Linked DNA regions of Homo sapiens: region 1 is linked to region 2. Evidence: fine-mapped expression QTL. A gene starts in region 2. The other region holds a variant in brackets. All regions are shown on one strand. Distances are between the middles of the regions.

Region 1 (16,240 bases), 22 kb before region 2:
GACTACAAGGAGTTAATAAGCAAGATGAACACGATATACAAATCCAGCTCTTATCACTAAGTTAACTTTTTAAGTAAATGAAAGTATTTGCAAAAATAATTACCAATTGAGAACATAGTTGCCTGAAAGTTTAAGAACACAGGAAAAATCATTAACTCTTTAATATGGTTGATTTCCTGTACTTAAAAAATGTGAGTGTAAAGAAAACGCAGTGATGGAGTTAGATATTATGGGGTGTTATAAAATTAGCTCTAAGAGTGTTCTTTCCAGCAAGTATTGGGGAAGCTATATTATTTTCCTTATTCCTGGTTTTATTTGTTAGTGTGTAGAAAATGCTAGACATTTCCTCAATGTATGTTTATTATTCTACTTCCTAAGTAAAGCTACTTTTAAAATAGGTTTGGTTGCTTCTTGAAAGATAGTGTTACAGGAACCCTGCCAAAAGTACATCGAACAGGTGCAGTTTCTGGACATTCCTTGAAGCAATGTGGTCATCAAATAAGTGGTAAGTTGTGAATTTCTTAGCTACATTTGAGTTAATATTGGATCTCGCTTAGAACAGCTTTTGCTCAAAGTTTGTACTGCTACAGCTTTTTGGAAGGCATCACTCATAAAGATAGGAGATGGGGCAGTATTCTGGACACAAAAGAGGGACCCATATTCATCTGGACACTTCTATTGTCTTTATAAATCAACACATACTTAATGAGCCTCTATTATTTATGAGGTTAGCGCTCAAGTGTAAGATTTGCAGAAAATGAATCCAAATAATTGTGTCTCGTTTCCAGATAAGAATTTTTAAGAAAACACAAGGGAACATCTCTCTCAAGTTCACTTGAGGGTAATTTTTACATCAGTGATTCTCAACCAGCAGTGATTTTGTCTCTTCCACTGGGGACATTTGACAATGTCTGGAGACATTTTTGGTGGCTACAACTAGGGAGGATGCTATTAGCATTTACTAAGTAGAGGCCAGAATGTTTGAATGCTGACCAACATTCTACAAGGCACAGGGCAGTCGTCCACAGCAAATAATTTTCTGGCCCAAAACGTCAACAGTGCTGACATCAAGAAACTCTGTGATATACCACTAGGCCCAAATTGAAGAACTGAGTTCTGCAAATCTTGCTAAGAATAATACTTCCTAAAGGAAACTTGAGGACTAGGATGCTAGAGAACTTTGATTCTGACATCTGAAGCTACTGATGTCTTGGGAAACAGTTTCCAATGCTATCCTAATAAATTTAAGACAAATGAACTATTTCTCAAACATGACTGGGACTGATAAGAAAGTGAAAAGTGCTGAAAAGATTCAACTGATGGGTTGTCAGAATCTTAAAATAACTGCTGTTATTCTATGTATGACTATATATCATTACTATTTTATTTTCATTATGCACAATTAATTTTGTAGGTTCAAATTTCAGATGTTTTTAAATTTGTCATCCTTTCCTCCCTCATTGATATCACCTCTTCAATACGTACACACTTTGAGCCTGCTGTTTGCATTTTAACCAGTTATCAAAGGATGGCAATGCCTTCATTATAAATGTGGGCCTGACTTAGCCAGTATAATAGGTGTAGTCTACGTGAGGTGGAGTACATTTCCTATTTTAAAAGATCAATTTTTATGTTAATCCAATTTGGTATAAATTATTCGAGTAAGTGCTATTTCTGATTGTTGTATCTTGTAGCAAAATTTAAAGAAAAAGTAATTTGTGCCTTTCTCAATATTCCTGTTATTGTTCATGTATTCTAAAACTCACTGTTACTCACTTAGCTTGCTTTTAATGTTTTTTAAAGTGAAAAATTGTTCCCAAGTACATAAAATCTCTACACTCAAGAACAATTCTAGTCAAAAGCATTTAGAGCTTCCGTATGAACACTTAAAGAGTTTTTATTTGTAAGAGTCGCATCCCAACTCTTAGCCTGTTCTTTTCTCACATGCAGAAAAATAGGAAAGAGACTTCGTTTCCACAGTCTGCAAATTCCTGTGTTTAAGAACCACAGTGAATAATCCACCTCCCTGCCCAACTCATCGTACTGTCATATAGTTTTCCTGACAGTTTGTGTATTTTCTGTCTTTCCCACCCTTAAATTTAGTTTTATGACTTCAACCATACTTCTTAGGAGTGGAAAGGTATCTGTAGTAGATTATGGTTTATTCCACATAATCTTGGGGAATAAAACTTTAAAAAAGTATACAGTTTATACTTCTGGTTACATTACTTCCTTAACCAAAAGTCTAACCAAGAAATTTGAATCTTTAAAAAAAAAAGAGGCCGGGCGCGGTGGCTCACGCCTGTAATCCCAGCACTTTGGGAGGCCGAGACGGGCGGATCACGAGGTCAGGAGATCGAGACCATCCTGGCTGACACGGTGAAACCCCGTCTCTACTAAAAATACAAAAATTAGCCGGGCGTGGTGGCGCGCGCCTGTAGTCCCAGCTACTCGGGAGGCTGAGGCAGGAGAATGGCGTGAACCCGGGAGGCGGAGCTTGCAGTGAGTCGAGATCGCGCCACTGCGCTCCAGCCTGGGCGACAGAGCGAGACTCCGTCTCAAAAAAAAAAAAAAAAAAAAGAGCCTAATTTTGCTTCACTGTCTGTGAAAAGAATTATCTGTATCTTTTGCATGTAAGACAAATCTCAATGAAAAGGGTGCTTAAATAGAAGTTAACACTATTTTAAAGCAAGAATGGAAGTGGTTTCATCATGCGTAAACAACAACTCTCCACATTTTGTAATGATTGATCTGGATGCAATTTGTCATCAGACAGGAGAAGTCGAAAGCAAAGAAATAACACTGGGAGATAGAGAAGCTCTTTCATTCAATGCGAAAGGTCAAAGGCACATCAGTTTCTTTAATAATGCAAACCTCAGCACACATTATCAGTGTCCTCATTATTATTGCCTTGTTTATTTCCCACTGCTCATTGATAATTTCAACGTGAAATTTACCTGTATTGCTGCATGCATCTTGCAGTTTAAGAAGTGAAGTAACCCAATTTCAAAGCTAGTGCTTTAGGGAAAATATTGGATTGTATTTACTTCAAGCAGAGTTCGATAATTTATGTACATAATAAAAATTTTAAATCCCTTAGTTAATATAGCAGTTGCCAAAACTGGGCTATTATCATTCTAAACTACCAACCCAAATGGTAGTGGGTATCTAATCTACCTCTAGAAAGAAAATGGACTGTATTTGCTCTATGTATTTTTCTTGTACAGCTTGCCATCGAGACATTTATAAAGGAGTTGATATGAGAGGAGTCAATTTTAATGTGTCTAAGGTTAGCAGTGTTGAAGAATGCCAAAAAAGGTGCACCAGTAACATTCGCTGCCAGTTTTTTTCATATGCCACGCAAACATTTCACAAGGCAGAGTACCGGTGAGTACAATTCAAGGTGTGTGTTCTTTGTATTGGTGCCTCCAGGATTTCACTGTATTCTTCTTAACCTCTTTTGTTCCCAAACTAAAAACCAAACAGGGCTTTTATTCTAACCACTTTCCTCATTTACTTACTCTATTTTATTTTTTTATCTTTTATTTATTTATTTATTTATTGAGATGGAGTCGCGCTCTGTCGCCCAGGCTAGAGTGCAGTGGCGTAATCTCGACTCACTACAACCTCCGCTTCCCGGGTTCAAGCGATTCTCCTGCCTCAGCCTCCCGAGTAGCTGGGATTACAGGCGTCCGCCACCATGCCTGGCTAATTTTTGTATTTTTAGTAGAGTCGGGGTTTTACTATGTTGGTCAGGCTGGTCTCGAACTCCTGATCTTGTGATCCACCCACCTCAGCCTCCCAAAGCGCTGGGATTACAGGCATGAGCCACTGCGCCTCGCCCTTCATTTTTTAATTAAATAATTCATTTAATTTCATTTGTTTCTCTACTCTTTTCCCCTGGCATGTAATTGTACCGCATCTTCAAAGCCTGACATCCTCTTCCCCTACTTCTCCAAAGCTGATTCTTGCAGGTCTTTCCTCAAATACCGTCCCCTCCAAAAGCCCATTTCTGAGCATTCTCTTTTAAGTCACACTCAGCTCTGTTTATTTCATTCATAGAGCTAATCACAATTTGATATTAACTTGTGATTTTTTTCCTTATTTTTAAATCTTATTTTTATTTGCATAGATGTATGGGGTACAAGTGTAATTTTGTTACTTTGATGTATTTTACAGTGGTAAAGTCTGGGCTTTTGGTATATCCATCACTGGAGTCATGTACATTGTACCCACTAAGCTATTTTTCAACGCCCGCCCCCTTCCCACCTCTCTGTCACCTTCCCAGTCTCTACTGTCTATCGCTCCATGCTCTACTCAATTTTGGTGTCATTTTTTCCTGAAGCAAAATTTTGGTGTCATTTTTTCTGAAGTCATTTTCTGAAGTCTGTGTCATTTTTCGCTTTCCTGAAGCGAATTTTGGTGTCATTTTTCCTGAAGTTCCGTTTGCCCCACACATAGGCCTTGCTTATAGAATGAGGGTTTAGTGTCACGGAGTCTCCTGCCTCATTCTCACCCTAACTTTTCCTTTACCCCTTTGCGAGGGGAAGGATGTCCATTAGGTTAATAATGCAGACCCCTAACCCACTCATTATCAGGGTCATTGTTTTTCCACTGTGCATTTTAATACTAACTGTTACCTGCACTGCTCCCTGCCCCTCAAAGTGCAGAAAGCAAAGTAACCTCTTTTCTTCCCATTCAGGAACAATTGCCTATTAAAGTACAGTCCCGGAGGAACACCTACCGCTATAAAGGTGCTGAGTAACGTGGAATCTGGATTCTCACTGAAGCCCTGTGCCCTTTCAGAAATTGGTAATTGTAGGACTACTTCACTTTGTGATTGTGGTAGGTGGAATAGGAGCCCCCAGAGACGTCCCTGTGCTGAGCCCTGGGACCTGTGCGTGTGTTCCCATAGCTGGCAAAAGCGTTTCTGTCAATGGCATGCAGTTACGGGCTTCGAGATGGGGAGTTTACTCTGGATTTTCTGAATGGGCCCAATGTACTCACAGGGTTGAGTGCTCACAAGGCTCATAAGAAAAAGAGAGAGGCGGAAGGCTCAGAGCCAGAGAGAGAGGTTTGAAGGTATTACACTGCTGGCTTTGAAGATGAAGGTCCGTGAGCCAAGGAATGCAGGCGGCCTCTAGAAGTTGAAAAGGGCGAGGAAAGAGTTTCCCTGTGGAGCGTCCTGGAGGAAGAAGCCCTGCTGATGTCTTGATTTTAGCCCAGTAAGACCCAATCTCTAGAACAGTAAGATAATTAATTTGTGTTGTTTTTAACCACTAAGTTTGTGGTTATGCCCCTAGAGCAGCAGTTATAGGAAACTAGTACAGTGATACTGTTAGAGTTATAGGACAGTGATATAGGACAGTGATACTGTTATAGTTATAGGAAACTAGTACAGTGATACTGTTAGAGTTATAGGACAGTGATATAGGACAGTGATATTGTTATAGTTATAGGAAACTAGTACAGTGATACTGTTAGAGTTATAGGTACAGTGATATTGTTATAGTTATAGGAAACTAGTACAGTGATACTGTTACAGGTACAGTGATATAGGACAGTGATACTGTTATAGGAAACTAGTACAGTGATACTGTTAGAGTTATAGGTACAGTGACATAGGACAGTGATACTGTTATAGTTATAGGAAACTAGTACAGTGATACTGTTAGAGTTATAGGTAGAGTGATATAGGACAGTGATACTGTTATAGTTATAGAAAACTAGTACAGTGATACTGTTATAGTTATAGGACAGTGATATAGGACAGTGATATTGTTATAGTTATAGGAAACTAGTACAGTGATACTGTTAGAGTTATAGGTACAGTGATATAGGACAGTGATATTGTTATAGTTATAGGAAACTAGTACAGTGATACTGTTAGAGTTATAGGTACAGTGATATTGTTATAGTTATAGGAAACTAGTACAGTGATACTGTTATAGGTACAGTGATATAGGACAGTGATACTGTTATAGGAAACTAGTACAGTGATACTGTTAGAGTTATAGGTACAGTGACATAGGACAGTGATACTGTTATAGTTATAGGAAACTAGTACAGTGATACTGTTAGAGTTATAGGTACAGTGATATAGGACAGTGATACTGTTATAGTTATAGGAAACTAGTACAGTGATACTGTTATAGTTATAGGACAGTGATATTGTTATAGTTATAGGAAACTAGTACAGTGATACTGTTAGAGTTATAGGTACAGTGATATAGGACAGTGATATTGTTATAGTTATAGGAAACTAGTACAGTGATACTGTTATAGTTATAGGACAGTGATATAGGACAGTGATATTGTTATAGTTATAGGAAACTAGTACGGTGATACTGTTATAGTTATAGGTACAGTGATATTGTTATAGTTATAGGAAACTAGTACAGTGATACTGTTAGAGTTATAGGTACAGTGATATAGGACAGTGATATTGTTATAGTTATAGGAAACTAGTACAGTGATACTGTTATAGTTGTAGGACAGTGATATTGTTATAGTTATAGGAAACTAGTACAGTGATACTGTTAGAGTTATAGGTACAGTGATATAGGACAGTGATACTGTTATAGTTATAGGACAGTGATATTCTTATAGTTACCGTGGTATAGTTATAGTTAAAGGTACAGTGATATTGTTATAGTTATAGGACAGTGATATTGTTATAGTTATAGGACAGTGATGTAGTTACAGTGATATAGGTACAGTGATATTGTTATAGTTATAGGACAGTGATATAGTTATAGGACAGTGATATTGTTACAGTTATAGGTACAGTGACGTTGTAATAGTTATAGGACAGTGATATTGTTATAGTTATAGGTACAGTGATGTTGTAGCAAAACTGTAAGGTCATTCCTTGGTTGTGTCCCTATCTAGTGAAATGACTCTACCAGGGGTAGGGAAATAAAACTCTGTCGTTTCACACATAAAGGTAATTTCAATGGAATTATCCAGAAAATTGCCATGACATTCCACCTCATTTAGCATGTCAGGATGTTAATGACAAGATGTTACTAAAAGCAAATCCCTTACGGCCAGTTTTCCGCAGTACTGGGTGCTGGCTCTGTGCCTGGCCCTGTATTGGGTGCTGGGCTAGGATTTCCCTGTGGAAGATTGGGAAGGTTGGTTACAAGGTGGCTATTTTCCTGTCTCCTCTTTGCGACAGCACACCTTCTCCATGGTGTGTGCCAGGTTCACGTGTACTGGTGATTTAATTTTAACGTTCATATTATTTTTTTCTGGGAGAGTTTTTGAAGGCTGCCAGGAGGCAGGACTCGATGCAAACATGCTCCATTCTGTACCCAGCCCTGTTGCTGGAAGGATTTGCTGCACTTACCCAGGGAACAGGCAAGCTCGTGCTGTGGCTCTGGGCTGTCACAGCTGCTGTCCACACCTGGGAGAGCACCCTGGATGGCTCATCTGTGTACTTGCTTTCTTGTTAAATTGCAGTGAGTTCACATGTGATTTAATCGGATCAAATGGCCTTTACAGACTGATAAAAATATGGCTGTTTCAGGTGGTGTTTTGAGCTGCTAAGGGCGTGGCTTTTCACTGAGTACGTGGTCCCCGTTCCTCAGGGAACACCCAGTAGCCACATGCCTCCTAAACCTAGAGTAGGGCTGTCTCCTGGCCTAACTGCCCAAATGAGATTCATAAGTTAGGGATGATCTGTAGTTATCACTACAGATTTGTCCTTGGTTTCACCAAGGATTTTCCTAATTTTACAAACAAAACCCCTAAGGCTCCTGGAAGGAGGGTAGAAGTGAAGGTGCTCCGGGGGCAACACAGCTGATGAGCTGAACCAGAACTCGACCCTTGGGTCACACACATTTCACAGTGCTCACTCCACCTTTTGTTTTTTTAATGGATTTAATGGTGTTTTAAAGCCTCCTGCCTCTCAACACATATGAATTCATTATATTTACAGATTTCCTTCTCTTGTGGTCCATCTTCCTGCATAGATCTTGAGAGATGTCAGGCTAACCACGTTTCCTCAGTTAATTTAACAAAACCATTTGCAACTCTGACATGGAAAATTCCTACCATGTGACTTATTAATTTATCAATTGAGATGGTACACATATTTTCAAGCCAAAAGGAGGAAAACATAAATTGGAAAAAAAAGGTTTTTTTATTTTTATCACCTCTGGGGAAGAAAGTCTGATAAACGAAGCTGGTTGATAAAATTGCAATTAGGGGAAGCAACATCATGGTTTCTGTTCGGAGGCTAACCAGATGGCATACTTGAAATAGAGAATGTCCTAGAAATCAACTGGTTGCTTGGCCAAAATATCTATAAATAGTGCCCAACATATTAGATAGGAAAAGCAAAGTAAAAACAATTTTAACAGGTTAGGACATTGGGCTGAAGTATTGCATATATTTAATGTCATGTGCGTCCGTGTGAAGAGACCACTAAACAGGCTTTGTGTGAGCAAGAAAGCTTTTTAATCACCTGGGTGCAGGCAGGCTGAGTCCGAAAAGAGAGTCAGTGAAGGGAGATGGGGTGGGGACGTTTTATAGGATTTGGGTAGGTAGTGGAAAATTACAGTCAAAGGGGGTTGTTCTCTGGCGGGCAGCGGTGGGGGGTCACAAGGTGCTCAGTGGGGGAGCTTCTGAGCCAGGAGAAGGAATTTCACAAGGTAACGTCATCAGTTAAGGCAGGAACCGGCCATTTTCACTTCTTTTGTC[T/A]TTCTTCAGTTACTTCAGGTCATCTAGATGTATACGTGCAGGCCTGGGCCCAGAGGCCTGACATTCCTGTCTTCTTATATTAATAAGAAAAAGAAAACGAAATAGTGGTAAAGTGTTGGGGTGGCGAAAGTTTTTGGGGGTGGTATGGAGAGATAATGGGCGATGTTTCTCAGGGCTGCTTCGAGCGGGATTAGGGGCGGCGTGGGAACCTACAGTGGGAGAGATGAAGCTGAAGGAATATTTTATGGTAAGGGGTGATATTGTGGGGTTGTTAGAAGCAGCATTTGTCATATAGAATGATTGGTGATGGCCTGGATATGGTTTTGTGTGAAATGAGAAACTAAATGGAAGACACAAGGTCTGAATAAGAGAAGGAGAAAAACAGGTGTTAAAGGACTAAGAATTGGGAGGACCCAGGACATCTAATTAGAGAGTGCCTAAGGGGGTTCAGTGTAATTACTTGCTTGGTTGGTGAGTTTTTGGGCTCTATCCTTGACAGAGTCCTCCTTTTTAAGTTGGAGGCTGAGCTTGGTGAGGTGTGTTTTTAAAAGACCATTAGTCTGTTCTACCTTTCCTGAAGATTGAGGATGGTGAGGGGTATGAAGGTTTTACTGAATACCAAGAGCCTGAGAAACTGCTTGGGTGATTTGACTAATAAAGGCCGGTCTGTTATCGGATTGTATAGAGATGGAAAGGCCAAACTGAGGAATTATGTCTGACAGAAGGGAAGAAATGACCACGGTGGCCTTCTCAGACCCTGTGGGAAAGGCCTCTACCCATCCAGTGAAAGTGTCTACCCAGACCAAGAGGTATTTTAGTTTCCTGACTCCGGGTATGTGAGTAAAGTCAATCTGCCAGTCCTGGGCGGGGGCAAATCCCCGAGCTTGATGTGTAGGGAAGGGAGGGGGCCTGAGCAATCCCTGAGGAGGAGTGGAGTAGCAGATGGAACACTGAGCAGTTATTTTTTGAGGATAGATTTTTACGACGGAAAGGAAAAGTGAGGTTTTAAGAGGTGGGTTAGTGGCTTGTAACTTACATGGAAGAGTTTATGAAATGATGACAGAATAGAATGGGCCTGTGAGGCTGGAGGAGATATTTTCCTTGGTCCAAGAATTATTTGCCTTGTGTGGGAAGAGATTGATAGGTGGAAGTTTCAATGGGGGAGTAGATGGGAGTGACAGATGAGGAAGAAAAAAACTGGCTGTGAGGGATAGAAGTTGGAATGCTCGCTGCTTTTTTAGCTACCTTATCAGCATAGGCATTGTCCTGAGCAGTGGGATCTGATGCCTTTTGGTGGCCCTTGCAGTGAATGGCTTCAGCTTCCTTTGGAAGTAAAGTGGCCTTGAGAGGAGTTTTTATTAAAGAGGCATTAAGATGGAGAACCCTTGTGTAGTGAGGAAACCTCCTTCAGCCCATATAACCGCATGGTGGTGCAGAATATGGAAGGCATATTTAGAGTCAGTATAAATATTGACACGTAGTCCCTTTGCAAGAGTGAGGGCCTGAGTTAAGGCAATGAGTTCAGCTTGCTGAGAGGTAGTGGAGCGGGGCAGAGCAGTAGCCTCAGTGATAGATGTGGAAGATACTACAGCATAGCCTGCCTTTGCTGGTGAGTGGTGATTAGGCCTGGTGGAACTGCCATCAATAAACCAAGTGTGATCAGGGTAAGGAACAGGAAAGAAGGAAATATGGGGAAATGGAGTGGATGTCAGGTGGATCAGAGAGATACAGTCATGGGGGTGGGGGCCAGCCTAAAACAGTAAGGTCAAGTTGTTTGAACAGAAAGGCTACAGGGCGTGGTCCTGGCTCTTGTGTAAGAATTTTGACTGCGCAGCCCTGCACTTCGGCTGTGTGTAATGAAAAGGGTTGGGATGAGTTAGGGAGAGCTAGTGTGGGAGCAGTTTCTAGGGCTGTTTTTAAGGAATGGCAAGAGGAGTGGCTAAAGGATTTAGGATCTTTGGGGTCAGCTAGCTTTGCTTTTGTGAGTTTATATAATGGTTTAGTCAGGATGGTAAAACTTAGTATCCAAAGGCGGAAGTACTTAACCATACCTAGGAAGAAAAGGAGTTGTTTTGTAGAAGGGGTTGGGGTTTGGGAGATGAGCCAGACACAATCAGCAGGGAGAGCACATGTGTTTTCATGAAGAATTATGCCGAGATAGGTAATGGATGAGGAAGAAATTTGGGCTTGACTGAAGTAATGGGGGCTGTCCTCGAAGCCTTGTGGCAGTACAGCCCAAGTAAGTTGCTGAGGCTGACGGGTGTCAGGGTCAGTCCAAGTGAAAGCGAAGAGAGGCTGGGATGAAGGGTGCAAAGGAATAGTAAAGAAAGCATGTTTGAGATCCAGAACAGAATAATGGGTTGTGGAGGGAGGTATTGAGGATAGGAGAGTATATGGCTTTGGTACCATGGGGTGAATAGGCAAGACAATTTGGTTAATGAGGCACAGATCCTGAACTAACCTGTAAGGCTTGTCCGGTTTTTGGACAGGTAAAATGGGGGAATTGTAAGGAGAGTTTATAGGCTTCAAAAGGCCACGCTGTAACAGGTGAGTGATAACAGGCTTTAATCCTTTTAAAGCATGCTGTGGGATGGGATATTGGCATTGAGCGGGGTAAGTGTGATTAGGTTTTAATGGGATGGTAAGGGGTGCACGATAGGTTGCCAAGGAGGGAGCAGAGGTGTCCTATACTTGTGGATTAAGGTGGGGACACACAAGGGGAGGATGTGAAGGAGGCTTTGAACTGGGGAAAGGGTGGCATTGAGGTGTGGCTGTGGCCTAAGAACAGTCAGGGAAGCGGATAATTGAGTTAAAATGCCTCGACCTAGTAAGGGAGCTGGGCAGGTGGTGATAACTAAAAAGGAGTGCATAAAAGAATGTTGTCCAAGTTGGCACCAGAGTTGGGGAGTTTTAAGAGGTTTAGAAGCCTGGCGGTCAATACCTACAACAGTTATGGAGGCAAGGGAAACAGGCCCTTGAAAAGAACGTAATGTGGAGTGGGTAGCCTCTGTATTAATTAAGAAGGGGATGGATTTACCCTCCACTGTAAGAGTTACCTAAAGCATCTGTGATGGTCCAGGAGGCTTCTAAGGTGATCGGGCAGCGTCAGTCTTCAGCCGCTAAGCCAAGAAGATCTGGGAAGCAGTCAGTCAGAGAGCCTTGGGCCAGAGTTCCAGGGGCTCTGGGAGTGGCAGCCAGGCCAGTTAGACAGTCCGATTTCTAGTGGGGTCCCACACAGATGAGACACAGCTTAGGAGGAATCCCAGGCTGCGGGCATTCCTTGGCCCATTGGCCAGATTTCTGGCACTTGAAACAAGATCCTGATGGAGGAGGTCCTGTAGGAATGCTTGACCACTGCAGTTTAGGCATTTTGAAGTTTTTGTGTGTGCTGGAGATGTGGCTGGGTTTTGTCTCACAGCAGAGGCAAGGAATCGCAACTCAGAAATACATTGCTACTTGGCTGCCTCTATTATTGTACATCTTGAAGGCGAGGTTAATTAAGTCCTCTTGTGGGGTTTGAGGGCTGGAATCTAATTTTTGGAGTTTTTTTTTGTTTGTTTTTTGGTTTTTTTTTTTTAATGTCAGGAGCTGACTGGGTGATAAAATGCATATTGAGAATAAGAGGCCTTCTGACCCTTCTGGGTCTAGGGCTGTAAAGCGTCTCAGGGTTGCTGCCAAACGGGCCATGAACTGGGCTGGGTTTTTCATATTTGATGAAAAAGAGCCTAAACGCTAACTGATTTGGGAGAGGTCGGATAAATAAAAAGGAACATTAATCTTGACTATGCCTTTAGCTCCAACCACCTCTTTAAGAGGAAATTGTTGGGCAGGTGGGGGAGGGCTAGTCGTGGAATGAAACTGTAAGCTGGACCGGGTGTGAGGAGGGGAGGTGATAGAAGGATTATAGGGTGGAGGAGCAGAGGCTGAGGAAGAATTGGGATCTGGCTTGGCCTGGCAAGGAGCAGCCTGGGGAGGAGGGGAGAGGTCAGATGGGTCCATAGAAAAGGAGGATTGGAAAGACTCAGCAACACTTGGGGTTGGGATTGAGAGGACAGATGGGTTGGGATTGAGGGGACAGATGGGAGGGAAAGAAGGAAGATTTGGGACAAGTTGCATTGGGAACAGAGACTAGGGAGGGACCAATGTGTAAAAGAATGCCTGGACGTCAGGCACCTCAGACCGTTTGCCCATTTTATGACAAGAATTATCTAGATCTTGTAGGATGGAAAAATCGAAAGTGCCGTTTTCTGGCTATTTGGAACCATTGTCGAGTTTGTATTGGGGTTAAGCAGCATTGCAGAAGAAAATAAGGCATTTAGGTTTTAGGTCAGGTGTGAGTTGAAGAGGTTTTAAGTTCTTGAGAACATAGGCTAAGGGAGAAGAAGGAGGAATGGAGGGTGGAAAGTTGCCTATAGTGAAGGAGGCAAGCCCAGAGAAAAGAGAGGGTAGAGACATGGAGAGAAGGGGTGGGGGGGTGCTTGCCCCCAGGAAAGTGGTTCTTGCCACTAAGGGTGAAGGATCAAGGCAGGCATTCGCGCGGTGATCAGATACCTCTGAAACGTGGGTGAATAATCAAGCAGGTGTCCCTGCAGTGATTAAACAGCAAGGAAAGACTATCTTCCCAAGTCCATGACCAGTGCCAGAGTTTTGGGTTCATGGATAAAACGCGTCTCCTCTGTCTCTACCAGAAAATGAAAGGAATTGAAATTAAGAGAAGGGAGAGATTGAAGGATGGCGCCAAGATTGAAAGGAAAAAGAGGTTGAGGGATAGGGAGAGAGGTTGGATAAGAGAGTAAAAAGAGGCTGCTTACCCAATTTAAAATCGGTGAGATGTTCCTTGGGCTTGTTGGTCTGAGGACCAGAGGTCATGGGTGGATCTTTCTCATGGAGCAAAGAGCAGGGGGACAGGGGATTGATTTCCCAAGGGAGGTCCCCTGATCTGAGTCACAGCACCAAATATCACGTGTGTCCATGCGAAGAGACCACCAAACAGGCTTTGTGTGAGCAAGAAAGCTTTTTAATCACCTGGGTGCAGGCGGGCTGAGTCCAAAAAGAGAGTCAGTGAAGGGAGATAGGGGTGGGGACGTTTTATAGGATTTGGGTAGGTAGTGGAAAATTACAGTCAAAGGGGGTTGTTCTCTGGCGGGCAGGGGTGGGGGGTCACAAGGTGCTCAGTGGGGGAGCTTCTGAGCCAGGAGAAGGAATTTCACAAGGTAACGTCATCAGTTAAGGCAGGAACCGGCCATTTTCACTTCTTTTGTCATTCTTCAGTTACTTCAGGCCATCTGGATGTATGCATGTAGGCTTGGGCCCAGAGGCCTGACATTTAACATGGATAAATGTAAAGTTCTTAGAATCATACATACACTTTGGAAAAGATGGGGCTTAATCGCACTTTATAAGACTTGAAGGATGTTTGAGAATCACTATGAAACTGCTGAAAATACCAAGAAAATTTAATTCTTATGTATATAAATAATGTGTCTGTTTTACATGAATCCCTTCTACAAGCTTGGTATTTAATATGGCATATATTGTTTTTTCATAGTAGATTTAAAATTTTTGATATCTAATTTAGATAACATAAAATTAACCCTTTGAAAGTGTACAACTCCGTGGTTTTTAGTATATCCACCTGATTGCACAACGATCACCACTGTCTAGTTCCAGAACATTTTTATCACCACAAAAGAAAGGCTGTATCCAGGCCGGGCACGGTGGCTCACGCCTGTAATCCCAGCACTTTGGGAGGCCGAGGCGGGCGGATCACGGGGTCAGGAGATTGAAACCATCCTGGGTAACACGGTGAAGCCCTATCTGTACTAAAGATACAAAAAAATTAGCTGGGCATGATGGCAGATGCCTGTAGTCCCAGCTACTCAGGAGGCTGAGGCAGGAGAATGGCCTGAACCCAGGAAGCGGAGCTTGCAGTGAGCCAAGATTGCGCCACTGCACTCCAGCCTGGGCGACAGAGCAAGACTCCATCTCACAAAAAAATAATAAAAATAAAATAAAAAAAAAAAAGAAAGGCTGTCTTTCTCCTTTCCCATTGGCCGTCTTTCTCCATTCCCTACTCCTCCAATCCCCTGGCAACCACTAAATCTACTTTCCATGTCTGTGGACTTGACTCTTCGGGACATTTTACATAAATGGAATCATGCAATGCAGCACATTTTGCATCTGGCTTTTTTCACCTGGCGTGTTTTCAAGGCTCATTCGTATTCTAGCATATATCAATACTTTGTTCCTATTTAGGACTAAATAAGATTCTATTGTATGAATAAAACATATTTTGTTTATATACTTAGTTTGATGAACATTTGAGTTGTTTCTGGATTTTTTTTTTTTTTTTTTTGCCTCTTATGAATAATGCTGCTATGGACAACAGTTTTTGGGTAGGCATGCATTTTAAATTCTCTTATGTATATACTTAGGATTAAAATTGCTGGATCACAGAGTAACTCCATGTTTAACTTTTTGATGAATTGCCAAACTGTTTTTGAGAGCAGCTACACAATGTTACATTCTTACCAGCAACAATTGAGGGCTTCAGTCTCTCTACAACCTTAACAACACTTGTTATTGTCTTTGTAATTATTGCCTTTCTAGGCAGTGTGAAGTGGTGTCTCACTGTGGTTTTGATATGCATTTCCCTAATGACTAACAATGTTGTGTATCTTTTCGTGTGCTCATTTTCAATTTGAATACATTCTTTGGGAAAATCTCTGTTTAAATCTTTTGGCCATTAAAAATAATTGGGTTATTTTCATTGTTGAGTTGTATGAACTCTTTATATACTCTGGATACTACACTCTTATGACATATATTATTTTCAAAAATTTTCTGTGCATCTGCAGGTCATCTTTTCACTTTACTGATGGTGTTCTTTGAAGCACCAAAGTTTTTAAACTTGATGAAATCCAGTCTGGCTTTATTCTTGCACGTGCTTTACCTAAAACGCCAAAACCTAATTCATGGTTTTGAAGATTTTTGCTTATGATTTGTTCTTAGAGGTTTATAGTTTTAGCTCTTACATTTAGGCATTTGATGCATTTTAAATTAAATTTTGTATATGGTGTAAAGTAGCAATCCAACTTAATTCTTGCATGTGGGTATTCAGTTATTCCATTGTCTTGAAACCCTTTTCAAAATCAATTGTCTATAAATGTAAGAGTTTATTTTTGGACCATCAGTTCTATCCTGTTGACCTATATATGCCTATCCTAATGCCAGTTACACACAGTCTTGATTACCATAACTTTGCAGTAAGTTTTGAACTCAGACAGTCTGAGTGCTTTTATTTTGTCCTTTTTCAAGATTAATTTGGTTATTCCGGATCTTTTGCATTTCCATATGAATTTTAGGATGGTTGTCAATTTCTGCAATAGAAAAGCAGCAGGATTTTGATAGAGAGTGCATTGAATCTGTAGACCAATGAGTATCAATGGAATTATGTGTTATCAAATTTAGTAAACTACATAAACGATATGTACACAACTAAAACAAAACTAAGATATAAGATCATATTAATGTA
Region 2 (15,299 bases):
TCATGTGAAAAATGGTGGTGACAAATTTTCTTGAATCATTAGCCTTAGAGGTTGGGCAGAAAGCAAAAAATTATTCTTGATGCTACTCTATAGAAAGAGAAGACAGAAAAAGAGAAAGATGTATTTTTAAAGTCTATATCCATAACTTTATTTGACCAAACTCTAATTTAAAAATTATGTTTCAGAATTCCAAAAACCAATATGCCTACCTTCCAAAGGTGACACAAGCACAATTTATACCAACTGTTGGGTAACCGGATGGGGCTTCTCGAAGGAGAAAGGTAAGCATGACGCTTTAAATATTGCTTCTAGAGTAAGTCTCACATGTTGAAATACATGGAGTGGGTCGTTTTAATCGGTTTCTGTCTGAAATTATATCTAAACTCTTTATCTTTCCTATCTATTTATTCCCAAATATTTATTCAGTTATTCTTAAAAAATGTATTTTTGCTTTGGCTTGAAAAAAAATTTTAGGGAGACTTTTAAGCATCTTACTTCATTATAAAGATCAGTTGCTTGACTTTGCATGAAGCAGATTGGGCCCTTCTAGGGCTGACAAGCCCGTGCAAGACCACCCGCTCCTCAGTGTTAGTAGCGTTCCCGTCTCCCAAAACCATGTTCTCCCTTGATGCTAATGGCCGGGAGCACAGGCAGGTGTGTCGTCTCACTATGGAGAATAATATTTGTGTCATTCTTTACAGAAGAAGGTAGCTTGCCAAACTGTCTCCATCTTTCCCGATTCAGTCTTTTGTTCAAGTAATTCACATTTTTAGATTTTTTATTGGTAATCTGAGACAAGAAGAAATTTAAAGTAATCTTCACTAAGCCATGAAAGCTCCCAACATTGTTCTCCATGAGAGATGCTGGCCTGCATTTATTCAAAAACAAAAGACCCCTCTGTTGCCAAAGCTCGGAGGGCTTTTCAGAAACGATATAGTTGTAAATTATAATTTTGAATATATAAAGCAAAAAAATGAAAAGTGAGAACTTCCAGGCTTTGGATTGTTGTAGGTGATAAATATAAAATGGGATTTCTGGGGGGCTGCTACTGAGATGAGGGGATGGCAGAAAACATGGAAGCAAGGTCTCTGGTCAGCCCAGGGTGCTGGGCTTGTCCCAACACCACGTAGGCAATAAGAGGACAGTACAGGGTGCCGTCTCTCTCCCTCTTCCTCTCTCTGTCTCTCTCTCTCTGTGTGTGTGTGTGTGTGTGTGTGTAACACTACCTTCCCAATTTTTACTGTCTATTTGTATTCAAAGATAAGGTCCTTATGAAAAATACACTGCTCTGATTCACTTTAAAACTTATTTCCATATTTATTATTTATTGTGGGAATAATAATATTCCCAATATTATTATTTATTATTTAAGTTATTATTATTAACTTCCCTCTGAGGTTATATATTGGTTACTCACAGGTGAAATCCAAAATATTCTACAAAAGGTAAATATTCCTTTGGTAACAAATGAAGAATGCCAGAAAAGATATCAAGATTATAAAATAACCCAACGGATGGTCTGTGCTGGCTATAAAGAAGGGGGAAAAGATGCTTGTAAGGTAACTCATGAGATTATGAAAAACACAATAGGCTGCTTGAGAAAATTCATTTCAAAATATATTTTCCAATAGCATAATTCAATCATAGTTTTTAAAAAAATTCAGAGACAAATGATCTGATAAATTGATAAGCAACTTTTAACAAATTGAATATACATAATATATATTTATATTATTTATGATATATGTCACAATCTATGCATGTGCTATTTAAGAGGGGCAAATATACATGCAATAATTGTGCTAGAATATAAAAACATTAGACTTCATCATTGGGATGATGATATCAAGATTTCTTTGTTAGATTTATTTCAGATAGAAAAGGGGATACGAAAAATGCAGGCACATGAGATACTTGGAGAACTTTAAGAAAGAGTGAGTGTGTGTGTGTGTGTGTGTGTGTGTGTGTGTGTGTCTGGCAAGCAAGGTCTTGCACACACACAGCACTTTGGGAGGCCAATGCAGGTGGATCACTTGAGCCTAGGAATTTGAGACCAGTCTGGGCAATGTGATGAAACCCATCTCTACAAAAAAATATGAAAGTATCTGTGTGTGTGTGTTGCTGTGTAGTGGACTACAGAACTTTAGAGGCAGTCACTTATTTGAATCCCATTGTCGTAACTTTCTACTATTTTATTTTTCCACTGTGACTCAGGGAGATTCAGGTGGTCCCTTAGTTTGCAAACACAATGGAATGTGGCGTTTGGTGGGCATCACCAGCTGGGGTGAAGGCTGTGCCCGCAGGGAGCAACCTGGTGTCTACACCAAAGTCGCTGAGTACATGGACTGGATTTTAGAGAAAACACAGAGCAGTGATGGAAAAGCTCAGATGCAGTCACCAGCATGAGAAGCAGTCCAGAGTCTAGGCAATTTTTACAACCTGAGTTCAAGTCAAATTCTGAGCCTGGGGGGTCCTCATCTGCAAAGCATGGAGAGTGGCATCTTCTTTGCATCCTAAGGACGAAAAACACAGTGCACTCAGAGCTGCTGAGGACAATGTCTGGCTGAAGCCCGCTTTCAGCACGCCGTAACCAGGGGCTGACAATGCGAGGTCGCAACTGAGATCTCCATGACTGTGTGTTGTGAAATAAAATGGTGAAAGATCACGATTAGCAAGTGTTTTCTTCTGGTTGTGAAACAGAACTGAAAGTAAGTGGTTGAGGTTCCAGCACAGTTCCTGGGATCCCTCTAATTGCACTGCTTCCTCTGGAACTCAGTATATCTCAAAGATGTAATTTCCTCTCCGTGCTGCACCTGGTCGGCCACTGAAACCCACTATTGCCTGCTTCACGTGTGGCAAAGAGCTAGCGGGCTTGGGTTTTGTTCTGCCGAGAGGAAGGGAGAACACCCACTTTTATAAGAAAGAGATGGGTTACCTGAACCCATGGGCACCTTTGCCTCTTGGCCTCCTAACTTTGCTACCAGGGCATGGCTAGGAGGGTCCAGGCTGCGCGTGCTGAGGAGCTCGAGGGGCTGCAGCATTGCACAGCCTTCATGGCAGGCAAGGAATCTGCTTTGCAAGGGGCATTAGCCCTGGAGGCTCAGTGGATATGGGCTATTGCAATAGTAATTCAAGGAGCATTTTTAGGCCTGGCGTGGTGGCTCACGCCTGTAATTCCAACAGTTTAGGAGATCAAGGCAGGTGGATCACTTGAGCATAGGAGTTCGAGACTAGCCTGGCCAATGTGACGAAACCCCATCTCCACAAAAATTAGCTGGGCATGGTGGTGCGCACCTGTAATCCCAGCTCCCCCAGAAGCTGAGGCAGGAGGACCGCTTGAGCCCGGGGATGTCGTGGCTGCAGTGAGCTGAGATGGCACCACTGCATCACTGCATTCCAGCCTGGGCAACAGAGTGAGACTGTCTCAAAAAAAGGAAGCATTGTTAGGTATAAATTATTATTATTATTATTATTAGTAGTAGTAGTAGTAGTAGTAGTACTGAGACGGAGTCTTGCTCTGTTGCCCAGGCTGGAGTGCAGTGGTGCAATCTTGGCTCACTGCAATCTCTGCCTCCCGGGTTCACGCCATTCTCCTGCCTCAGCCTCCGGAGTAGCTGGGACTACAGGCACCCGCCACTGTGCTTGGCTAATTTTTTGTATTTTTAGTAGAGACGGGTTTCACCATGTTAGCCAGAATGGTCTCGATCTGCTGACCTTGTGATCCACCCGCCTCGGCCTCCCAAAGTGCTGGGATTACAGGCTTGAGCCACCACACCCAGCCCTGTTAGGTATAAATTATTTCATAAAATTCAGACTTGTAAATTTATGGTAGCCTTTGGAATGGGTGATAGATGTCCTATGCCACACAAATTCCTCACATGCCGAGGCTCACCGTAACTGATACCAGCTCGCTTGATTCAGTTCAGTTAAACTGAACAACATTTACACAGAATTGGCGATTTACAAAATCTTATGTAAGTTAAGTAGAAAAACAGAAAAAAGTTTTCTGAAAGAGTTTGGGTTTTTCCTTCAATGCTCAAGACAGAGGTCCCCAACCTTTTTGGCACCAGGGACCAGTTTTGTGGAAGACAGTTTTTCCATGGACCAGCATGGTGGTGGGGGATGATTCTGGAATGATTCAAGTGCATGACATTTATTATGCACTTTATTTCTATTATTACTACATTGTAATATATAATGAAATAATTATGCAACTCACCATAATGTAGAATCAGTGGGAGCTCTGAGCTTGTTTTCCTGCAACTAGACAGTCCCATCTGAGGGTGATGGGAGACAGTGACAGATCATCAGGCATTAGATTCTCATAAGGAGCCTAGATCCCTCACATGTGCAGTTCATAACAGGGTTTGAGCTCCTATGAGAGTCTCATGCTGCTGCGGATCTGGCAGGAGGCAGAGCTCAGGCGGTTATGCTTGCTGGCCTGCCACTCACCTCCTGCTGTGCGGCCTGGCTGCTAACAGGCCATGGACCAGGTACTGTTCTGGGCCCCGGGGGTTGGGAACCCCTGCTCAGAGACACACCGGGTGGTAGGAGGAGCTAAAGGTGGAGAGGGTGAAGGAAAATATGAGGTCTGGGCTATCCACAAACCAGATAGCAGGAAACTGAAGAGTTAAACATTTACTTCAGAATTGAATGGCTTTTGTAAAATCTGGCTAGATTCCATGAAACGATTTTAAAAATGCACTATTTAAATTTTGCCTTTGCATGCGATGAAGACATTAGTCTTTGTTCATGTGGATGTTTTTTTATGTTTAAAAGGGAAAAAATGGTTTGCAATGAAACTTTTATCTCAGTCTTTGAGTATTGATCATGGGGTGTTGGAACAGGACTTTGGAATGCTTGCAGGGTAAACCTTTGGCCTCTGTTAGTCAGGGAATGACCTAGTTTGGCAAAACAGAGGAGAGTTTTGAAATATGGAACTTTCCCGAGGCATACATTGTCATTTTAAAGTGGTCAATCAAAGCCCAGTAGGACTGGGCTGGTGTCTTGGTGACTCACTGTGTGCTCATATACAGGGGTAACTGAGGAGCCCTTCACACAGGTCTAGCCTCGTGGGACTAAAAAGTGTGACATGGGCTAGGAAAATGCGAGGCTGGGATGCCTTCACTCCCATGAGGAAGCGTGACGGGAGGAGGCGTGGGCCACTGGCAGTTCTACTTCACAAAGGCTGCTGGCAGTGTCAATCCTGCAAGCTGGCCTTGCCCTCCTGTGGCGGCAGTGTACACGTGGCATGCAAGCACATGCACAAGCCACCTGGCTCCAAGGTCAGCCAAGGGCTCCAACATCTGTCTCAGTCCCTGCCAAGGCATGGGAACCCCCCACGTAAACTTGGAACTTTTCCTTTCAATTGTTGCTTATGTCTGTCACTTTACTTGACTGTGAGCAGCTTCTAGGGAGGCTCTCTCATTCATAGTGCATATCATGGGCATCCAGTAAACGGCTAATGATGATGATACACCTTTATTACAAAAATAAAGGCAATGGAGACTGAAGAGGTGAAATGATTAGCTCAAGGTCACTGGCAAGGACAGAGCTGGAACAAAGCTCAGCATTCCTATGCCAGGCAATGTCCTCTCACTGATATCCGGTTGCTTCTCACTAGGAGAAGGATGAAAGATGACAGAGCATTTATAACCACCATTTGTTATTTTCATTATCAACTGACACTGGTGTTTCTCTGCCCGGAGCGATTTTGTCCTCCCTTCACCTCAGGAAACATTCGGCAACGTCTAGAGACACTTTTGGTTGTCCTAATGGGAGAGGGTATGCAACTGGCTGTAGTGGGTAGAGGCCAGGGATGCAGCTAAACATCCTGCAGTGTGTGGGACAGCCCCTCGCAAGAGAGAGTTATCCTGCCCCAATATCAATAATGCCAGGGTTGGGAAAGCCTGATCTCATGTCAGCATTAAAACCTTGTAATGAAAAGAGGACATTTCGGCCGGGCGCGGTGGCTCACGCCTGGAATCCCAGCACTTTGGGAGGCTGAGGTGGGCGGATCGCGAGATCAGGAGATCGAGACTATCCTGGCTAACACGGTGAAACCCCGTCTCTACTTAAAATACAAAAAAAAAAAATTAGCCGGGCGTGGTGGCAGGCACCTGCAGTCCCAGCTACTCGGGAGGTTGAGGCAGGAGAATGGCGTGAACCCGGGAGGTGGAGCTTGCAGTGAGCCGAGATCACACCACTGCACTCCAGCCTGGGCGACAGAGCGAGACTCCGTCTCAAAAAAAAAAAAAAAAAAAAAGAAAAAGAAAAACAAAAGAGGACATTTCAGGAACAGCAAGAAAGGGGTTGTAGGACATGGCGGGCTGTGCCCTTTCTCTTCCTTTATTTTTTACTTTTTGATACATTCTATTTGTACATATTTGTGGGGCACATGTGAAATTGTGTTATGTGCATAGAATGTGTAATGATCAAGTCAGGATGTTGGCATACCCATCACCCAACCATTTCTATGTGTTGAGTACATTTCAAGTCCTTTTCTAGCTATTTAGAAAACTATAATACCTTGTTGTTGACTGCAGTCACCCTACTCTTCTGTCAAACATTAGAAAGCATTCCTTCTATCTAACTCTGTGGTTGTACCCCTTCACCAACCTCTCTTCGTCCTCACCACCACCCCCCCACACACACCCTTCCCAGCCTCTCGTAACCACCATATACTCTCTACGGCCATGAAATCATCTTTCGTGGGATCATGCAATGTTTGTCTTTCTGTGCTTGGCTTACTTTACTTAACATAATGACCTCCAGTTCCATCCACATTGCTGCAAATGGAATGATTTCCTTCTTTTTTATTGTGTCCATTTTCAAAGCAAGTTCTGAAAGACAAGAGAAGGAGCTCTGAGAGTTGATTATGGCCATGCCTGAGAAGGGGTCTCAGTCAACTAATGCCGTTGTGGACATTCCTGTCCCAAGCAGAAGGCTTTAGGTCACAATATGTCCAAATGTCCAATACATCTCCCACCTATGATCCATTGGAAAGAAAACAAACCTCGGGACCCCCAAAATCACTAAGCCACATGGAAAAGTAAAGCTGGGAACTGCATTGGGCAAACCTTCCTCCCATTCTATTCCTAAATAAAATAGCTTTCTTAAGCTATAAAAAACCTTTTTTAAGCTTTAAAAAGGTTTTAAAAAGCTACATTCCTCACAATTTGCCCATGAGGAAATTCCTTGTGGAAAAAGGACAGGCAGAAGTCAGAGTCACCCCTCTGCTGACATGAGACAGGTGCGTATCTGATTGCCTCGTTTGCCATATTGTTTCACTGGGCCACACTAAGGCATGAGTGACTATTCTTGTAAATTGCGTATTTGGTGAAAGGCTAATTGGAAACTCGAAAAAATGCTTCTGTTTGTCTCTTATCTACCTATGACCTGGAAGCCCCCTTCCCTTCTTCGAGTTGTCCCACCTTTTAGGACCAAACCAATGTACATCTTGCATAGATTGATTGATGTCTTATATCTCCCTAAAATGTACAAAATCAGCTTGGGCCCTGACCACCTTGGACACATGTCATCAGGACCTCATGAGGCTGTGTCATAGGTACATCCTTATCCTTGGCAAAATAAACTTTCTAAATTGATTGGGACCTGTCTCAGATACTTTTTGATTTAGAATCCTAACTTCTGACTTGTACTTGGGTCTCTGCAGACTAACTTCTATATTCTTCCTAAGACTTTGTCTAGTTATTCCTCATTTTCATCAGTCTTCGAATATTCAAAAACATTTCATTTCATTGAAAAAAAATTGAAAAAAGTAGTTGATATCAGAATTTTAAACTGCAATGCATTAGTTGAAAATAATTTTTTAAGGATATCTATGGTCAGTTTAAAAGAAAGGTCTATTTAATCTCAAAGAGTTTCTATGTAGTCAAGACTTTTATTCTAGGCTGGGCACGGTGGCTCATGCCTGTAATTCCAGCACTTGGGAGGCCAAGGCAGGTGGATCGCTTGTGCCCAGGCATTCCAGACCAGCTTGGGGAACACAGCAAAACCCTGTCTCTACAAAAAATACAACAATTAGCCATGCGGAGTGACATGCGGCTGTATTCCTAGCTATTCAGGAGGCTGAGGTGGGAGGATCACCTGGTGGCTGCGTTGAGTGGAGATCACACCACTGTACTCTCGTCTGGGCGACAGGAGTGAGACCTTGTCTGAAAAAAAATTATTCTACTTTTATTTGAATAGACAAAATTTTTTTGAATCCTGATACTATTTCAAAGACCTTAAAGATTTCACTAACTAGCTAAATCAAACTTAGGAAAATATTATTTGGTTTTCCAGTGAAGCATTTCTCTTATTTAGAGCCTTTCTGTTTCTCTCAATAGGGTTGGAGAGTTATCCTTATCTTCTTTTTATTGGGGCTTAAGAAGAGAGATGAGGTTCCATGGAGTAAACAATACAAGGATATAAGGACCTCATATAATCTCACGTATCCATTTTCCATGAAAGCCATTCTTGGCACGAATTTGCCATTCTATGTTTGAGCCTCATAAAAGGCAATGCATCATAAATATGCACTTTTTGGGTAGCTGGAATGTACTTTAAACGGGAAACTCAAGAAAACAGCTAGGAACTCTTTATGCCAGGATAAGTCAAATGCACTGGCAATAGATCAAATAAAAATATCTGAGTAAATGCCTTCCAGATAGAACATCACCCTAGTTCTTCAGCACTTTACAAAAAGATCTGTTCTCAGTTCACATTCTCTTAATTCCCTGTCATTTCTCCCCGGTCTTCCAAATATGTTTTTTAAATTATGATTCCATGTATAAACACAAGATCGTATTTTGCTTTTCTATGAAAAATTGAGAGCCTTCTCTGAACCATAAACGTATCTTTCTCCAAAATGTATTCAAATCAGGCATATTGAAAACTGTTTTGTGTTCGTGTTGTGAGGTTTTTTAGGGGACCGCACAGAAACCCTCAGCACTAGTTAGTGCCTTGTGTTCTAAATGAGGAAACGGAAGCCAAGGACCTGCAGGTGGCTGGGGACTGTGCACAGGCTGGTTCCGCTCAAGTCACATGACTCGTCAGCCAGTGAGTAGGTCTGGGTAGCAGTTGGCATGGATGAACATGCCCTCCATAGGCTTTCAGACCTTCTTCAAGGCCAAAGGGAAGGCCTTCATGGAAATATAATTATGTGAAACACCCCAGAATTTTTTCACAAACTTTCCTGCCTATAAACGCCAGGTCCTACCACTGTCCAGTGTCCCACTTCCCACTGTCCAGTGGGAAGACTCCCTCCAGGACAAAACCACCCTTTCCTTCAGGGATGTGACGTGCTGTGCTTTCGTTGACAGTCATGCAGCTGCTAGACATGTCACTTCCTAGCTCTCCATTCGGGTCTGTGTCCCAGGACCTAAAGAAAGCTAAAAGAAGCCGGGCGTGGTGGCTCATGCCTGTCATCCCAGCATTTTGGGAGGCTGAGGCTGGCGGATCACTGGAGATCAGGAGTTTGAGACCAGTCTGACCAGCATGGTGAAACCCTGTCTCTACTAAAAATACAAAAAAAGAAAAGAAAAAAGAAAAAAAAATAAGCTGGGCGTGGTGGCGCGGGCCTGTAGTCCCAGCTACTCCGGAGGCGGAGGCAGGACAATCACTTGAACCTGGAAGGCGGAGGTTGCAGTGAGCTGAGATCGCGTCATTGCACTCCAGCCTGTGCGACGAGAGACTCTGTCTCAAAAGAAAGAAAGAAAGAGAGAAAGAAAGAAAGAAAGAAAAGAAAGAAAGAAAGAAGAAAGAAAGAAAAGAAAGAAAGTAAGAAGCAAGCAAGCTGAAATAGCTTATTTTTCTGTTTTAAAAAATAGACTTTTAGTGTTCACAAGTAAGAATAAAAAAAAAAAAAGCTTGGCCTTAGGAGGAATCCTATCTGCTTAGGCCTCTGAGAGGCAGCGTCACCTGAAGGGAAACTGACTGGGCAAGAGCCAGGCTCTTAGGAGCTGTCTGTACTTTGCTTCCCATCCGTCCGCTCTCCCCCAGCAGCCAAAGTCTCCTCCCTCCATTATATTGCAAATCAATGAATCCATTAGACTTTCCATGTTTTCTTTTTAGACTTTGAGATTCAAGGTCAGCTAGAATTAATGGTTAACAGCTGACAGGTGAAAGTGTGGTTAAATGCAGCTTTGGCTAGCAGGCACACAGGCAAAATCAAGTTCTACATCTGTCCCTGTGTATGTCACTTGTTTGAATACGAAATAAAATTAAAAAAATAAATTCAGTGTATTGAGAAAGCAAGCAATTCTCTCAAGGTATATTTCTGACATACTAAGATTTTAACGACTTTCACAAATATGCTGTACTGAGAGAGAATGTTACATAACATTGAGAACTAGTACAAGTAAATATTAAAGTGAAGTGACCATTTCCTACACAAGCTCATTCAGAGGAGGATGAAGACCATTTTGGAGGAAGAAAAGCACCCTTATTAAGAATTGCAGCAAGTAAGCCAACAAGGTCTTTTCAGGTACAGTTTCAGAACTTACTATTTAACATTCCTCTCAAGCAAATACGCCTTGAAATGCTTTTTTTAAATCATAGGAATTTAAAAACACTTTACAATAGAGAATGATTGATTTTTAAAATGTGTCTGATTTAGCTTTGTAGAGATGTTCCGCTAATATCCATAACTAATCTGAGAGGAAATGTGGAACAACAGAAGAGTAACAGTGTCTACTCAGTAACAAGCGTTTTACGAGTTAAAAAGACATCCAAATGCAGTACTGAAAAATCAGAAGTCTTGATTTGTCTCACTGATGACTCCGTTTTTCCTAGAGCAGTCTGTTTAATGCTTACTGGAGATAAATAGATTTATAGGTGACCAAGACAATCGATTAATGTATCAGCCACAGACTTTTTTAAATAGAAAATTTTCTAAGTAGGAAATCATTCATAGCTCTTTGAAAGATATAGGGAGAGGCCTCAAGGAAAGAAAGAAAGGAAAAAAATTGGGAAAGGAAACAAAGATGAAAAATTGGGGTGGGGAGAGCGGTCAGATGGTGGCCATGAGAAGGATCTGAACACAGAGAGCGGCGGGGCCGGCGGGGAAGGAGGGAGGAGGGGAGAGCGCTGCTTCCCTGTGGGTTCCGGCTTCTGCAGAGCTGTAAGAGTTGAATGCCACACACAGTCACACTAAGGAATGCTCCAGGATTGGGAAAGAAAATTCAACATTATAATGAGAACACTGTGAATGCTATTGAATTAACTACTCCCCTCTCTCCCTATTTCTTGTAAGTCTTAGTGTCAGTAAACTAATTATAAATTTACATTTTATGTTCTAAAAGCATGCACCTTTTTCTCATTGTAGGATGATTTTCTTATATCAAGTGGTACATTTCATTTTATTTACTTCAGTTTCTGGTGGTAAGTAGAGTGTTATCTTAACTATGGGCTGGGAGAGGGAAATCACACTGCAATCTCCACACATGTGGGAGAATCCCACACCATTTATGCCGGGAAGGAAATAAAATGTTTTTATTAACTTCCTGCCTGAGGCTCCAGAGGTTTTCAAAGCAGGGTAGGAATTGAGGTGAAAAAATTGTTTGTACTGGTAGGAATCTGTGTCTATATGTGTACCATATCTACATCCATGCCTACATACATCATTCATTTAAATGATATTTAAAAGCAATATTAAAAAGAAGAAATCTTGATTTGCCTCACTAATTAGTTGGTTTTTCATAAAGCAGTCAGTTCAATGGAACATACACACACACATAAAATAGGAATTTTGTACTGAAAAATGTTATGTAACTATTCATACACAGTTTATGCATTTCAATAATTTAACTACCCTGTTAATTCTCCACCCTATGTCACATCTGCTAAATTTGTTTATAAATTACTTAGCCAATATTAAGTAGGATATATCAGTACAGGTATTGTTTAGTTCCATGACCATTCTTTATTTAAAATGAAAGCTGAAGCATTCCTTTAGAAAAATAGCTTATGTCTACATGTTATATTTAATTTCTGATACTATTGCTAGCATTTTAAGCATAGTAAATTCTTTTTGCTGGCCTATGTGAAAAAAGGCAAACCTAGGTGAAGATATTAAAAGTAAATTCCACTTAATATATTAAATTACACAGCTCATAATTTCAATTTTCTCTGTGACAAGACTACTGCTCAGGTTATAATATTCCTTTGTTATAATTATCTGGAAATTGTATTGTTATTTCATTGATAAATATGTCAGCGCTAAATAATTTGATATATTTTGAACACTGGACCCAATAACTACATAAACAATTGACCCTGAATCAGGGGTTCCACATCCATGGATTTAAACAACATTGAAGTGAAATTTTTTAAAAAAAATTATATCTGCACTCAACATGTGCAGAGTTTTTTCTTGTCATTATTCCCGAAACAACACAGTATAACAACAATTTGCATAGTATTTACATTGTACTAGGTATTATAAGTAATCTAGAGATGATTTAAAGTACACAGGAGGCTGTGAGTAGGTTATATGTAAATACTATGCCATTTTCTATCAGGGACTTGAGCGTTCATGGATTTTGGTATCTGCAGGAGGTCTGGCAGCCAATCCCTCATAGATATCAAGGAATGATAGTGTACATATTTAGGTCCTTTATACATGCACATGGAACATTTACAAATATTGACCACACACAAGCCTCTGAAACAAGGCTCAACAAATTTTAAGGGGTTAAAATTATACTGATCATGTTATTCAATCACCGTGAATGGGAGCTAGAATAATAATAAAAAGGGAATTGAAAATCTGCAAACGTTTGAAAATTGAGTATTTATAATCACCGTGAATGGGAGCTAGAATAATAATAAAAAGGGAATTGAAAATCTGCAAATGTTTGAAAATTGAGTATTTATACCTTTTTAGATTAAGATGAATCAGAGATGAAATCACAATGGTAATTAGAAAAGGAATTGTACAATAATGAAAGTACAGTATATCAAAACTTTGAGATGTAACCGAATCAGTGTTGAGATCAAATGTATAGATTTACATGTATACATTAGAATACAGAAAAGGGAAAAATTAATGATATAAGATGACAAGAAGATAGAGAATAGCAACTTAAGTGCTAAGAAATTAGAAGGCAGAAAGAAGAAATCGCAGAAATTAATTAAATGGAAGACACACATATTTGAGAGGTCAACATAACCCCTTTCTAGCCCATTTTATAAGGTCAGGGTAATCTTGACACCAAAATCTGATAGGAAAATTCTGAGGAAAAAAAGTCACAGGTCTTTTATCTTATGAACATATGTACAAATGTCCTAAACAAAATATTATCCAACTTAACCCAGTAGATTGTTAAAAAAATTAAAGGATGATTACATTGTGATATTGTGACAAAGTTGGGTTTATTCCAGGAATGAAAAGTTGATTTAACATTCAAAAATCAATAGATGTGTGACTTCGGGGTACATACCGAAAAAAAAGAAGGGAAAGCAGGAACTCACACAGATATACTTGTACACCCATCTCATAGCAGCATTATTCACACTAACCCAAAGGTGGAAGCAGCCCATGTGTTTATCAACAGGTGACTGGATAAAGTGTGGTACATACATACAAAGGAATATTACTCAACCCTAAAAAGAAAGGAAATTCTGACACATGCTATGACATGGATGAACCTTGAGGACATTACGCTAAGTGAAATAAGCCAGTCACAAAAGAACAAATACTGTGGGATCTCACTGATAGGAGGTACTTAGGGTAGTCAATTTCATCAAGACGGAAATTAGAACAGAGGTTGCCAGGGGCCGAGGGGCCAGGGGAAGGGCTGAGGGTTGGTGTTTAATGGGCACAGAGCATCAGCTGGCGAAGTTGAAAAGTTCTGGAGGTGGATGGTGCTGATGGTTGCACAGCAATGTAAATACCCTTAGTGCCACAGAACTGTACACTCAAGATGGCTACATGGCACATGGTATGCTATCTGTCATAATAAAAAATAAAAATAATTTTAAATGTTAATATGTGCCGAAAAATGCTTGCTAAAATTCTATTAATGATCAAAACTTTAAATAAACTGGAAATGGAAGAGAACTTTCATCAGCTATTAAACGATATTTTAAACAAAAGCAAACAAAAATCCAAACCAAAAATCTTCAAGAAACATAATACGTAATAGCGGAATATTGAAAGCTTTCCCAAGGGATTGAGAATAGGACAAGAATACTTCCCATTATTTCCATTTACTCTTGACTGGAGGTACTCGTTGGTGCGGTAAGGAAGGGAAATAAAAGGAAAACGATTAGGAGGAACATAAGCTCTCGTTTTTCACAGATGATGTGATTGAGTACCTAGAAAAATCCAAAATTAACCATCACATAAATTATTTGAGCCAATTAATTAAATGAGTAAGAAGTCTCGATACAACGTCAATATACAACAGCAAGCACTTGCTCGTTCGCAAAAGCAGATGAACTAGTTTTTACTGACACTAGAAGCAGCATGTGTTCCATGTGTTCCACATCCATGCACTCAAACAACCTTGACGTGAAATATTTTTTAAAAAATTGTATCTGTACTCAACGTGTGCAGAGTTTTTTTCCAAAATTGTTTTCCAAAAATTTTTAAATGTTTATATGTTTAGGGGGTGTAAGTGCAGATTTCTTACATACATATATTATGCGGCGGTGAAGTGCCGGCTTTTGGTGTACCCATCACCCAAGTAGTGAACACAGCCTCCAACAGGTAATTTTTCAACGCTCACCCCACTCCCATCCTCCCATCTAGTGGCATATTGAAAATCAATTTGTCTTGTAAAATTAAATAATCCAATTAGGAGGGGGATATATTCTAAGGAAATTAGTGCATGATGCACACACACACACACACACAGAACACGTGTGTGCGCATGTGCACATGAGAGAGAGTGAGAGAGAAACTGGGTCTTGCTCTGTCGCCCAGGCTGGATTGCAGTGGTAAAATCACAGCTCACTGCAGCCTCAAACTCCCAGGCTCAGGAGATCCTCCTACCTCAGCCTCCCGAGTAGCTGGGATTACAGGTGGAAACAACCATGCCCAGCTAGTATTTTTTTTTTTTTTTGTATTTTTTATAGAGACAGGGTCTTGCCATGTTGCCCAGGCTGGTCTTGAACTCCTCAGCTCAAGCAATCTACCTACCTTAGCCTCCCAAAGTGCTGGGATTACACGCATGAGCCACTGCGCCCACTCCGCATTATTAAATATAGAACATTTATTTGATTCATCAGTTAATATTCTTCTTAAAAGTACTATTTTAATGTAGCAAGATTGCTTTCCACCAAAAGGTGGG

Which allele goes with the higher level. Positions count from the first base shown, and alleles are read on the strand shown. Sizes are in standard deviations (SD) of each study's normalised expression.
As copies of A replace T in region 1, the expression in prefrontal cortex of the gene that starts at base 10,383 in region 2 goes down (small effect, 0.36 SD a copy in CommonMind).

The links. PIP is the estimated chance that this variant, and not a neighbour inherited with it, causes the effect.
Region 1: its variant is fine-mapped to the expression of F11 in prefrontal cortex (CommonMind, PIP 0.93).

What each region holds. Positions count from the first base shown.
Region 1 is chr4:186,233,554-186,249,793 of GRCh38, forward strand. KLKB1 (kallikrein B1) reads left to right here. Exons shown (of 15, transcript NM_000892.5): 4 at 399-505; 5 at 3,228-3,387; 6 at 4,703-4,812. It overlaps LOC124900873 (a long non-coding RNA gene), which reads left to right and starts at 4,852. Exons shown (of 2, transcript XR_007058497.1): 1 at 4,852-5,492; 2 at 5,612-6,941. RefSeq lists enhancers at 7,552-8,157, 9,746-10,274, 10,275-10,802. The variant T/A (reference allele first, on the strand shown) is at 8,707.
Region 2 is chr4:186,255,807-186,271,105 of GRCh38, forward strand. F11 (coagulation factor XI) reads left to right here and starts at 10,383. Exons shown (of 15, transcript NM_000128.4): 1 at 10,383-10,489; 2 at 11,330-11,385. The coding sequence starts at 11,331. It overlaps KLKB1 (kallikrein B1), which reads left to right. Exons shown (of 15, transcript NM_000892.5): 13 at 186-281; 14 at 1,420-1,559; 15 at 2,215-2,665. The coding sequence ends at 2,406. RefSeq lists an enhancer at 8,742-9,513.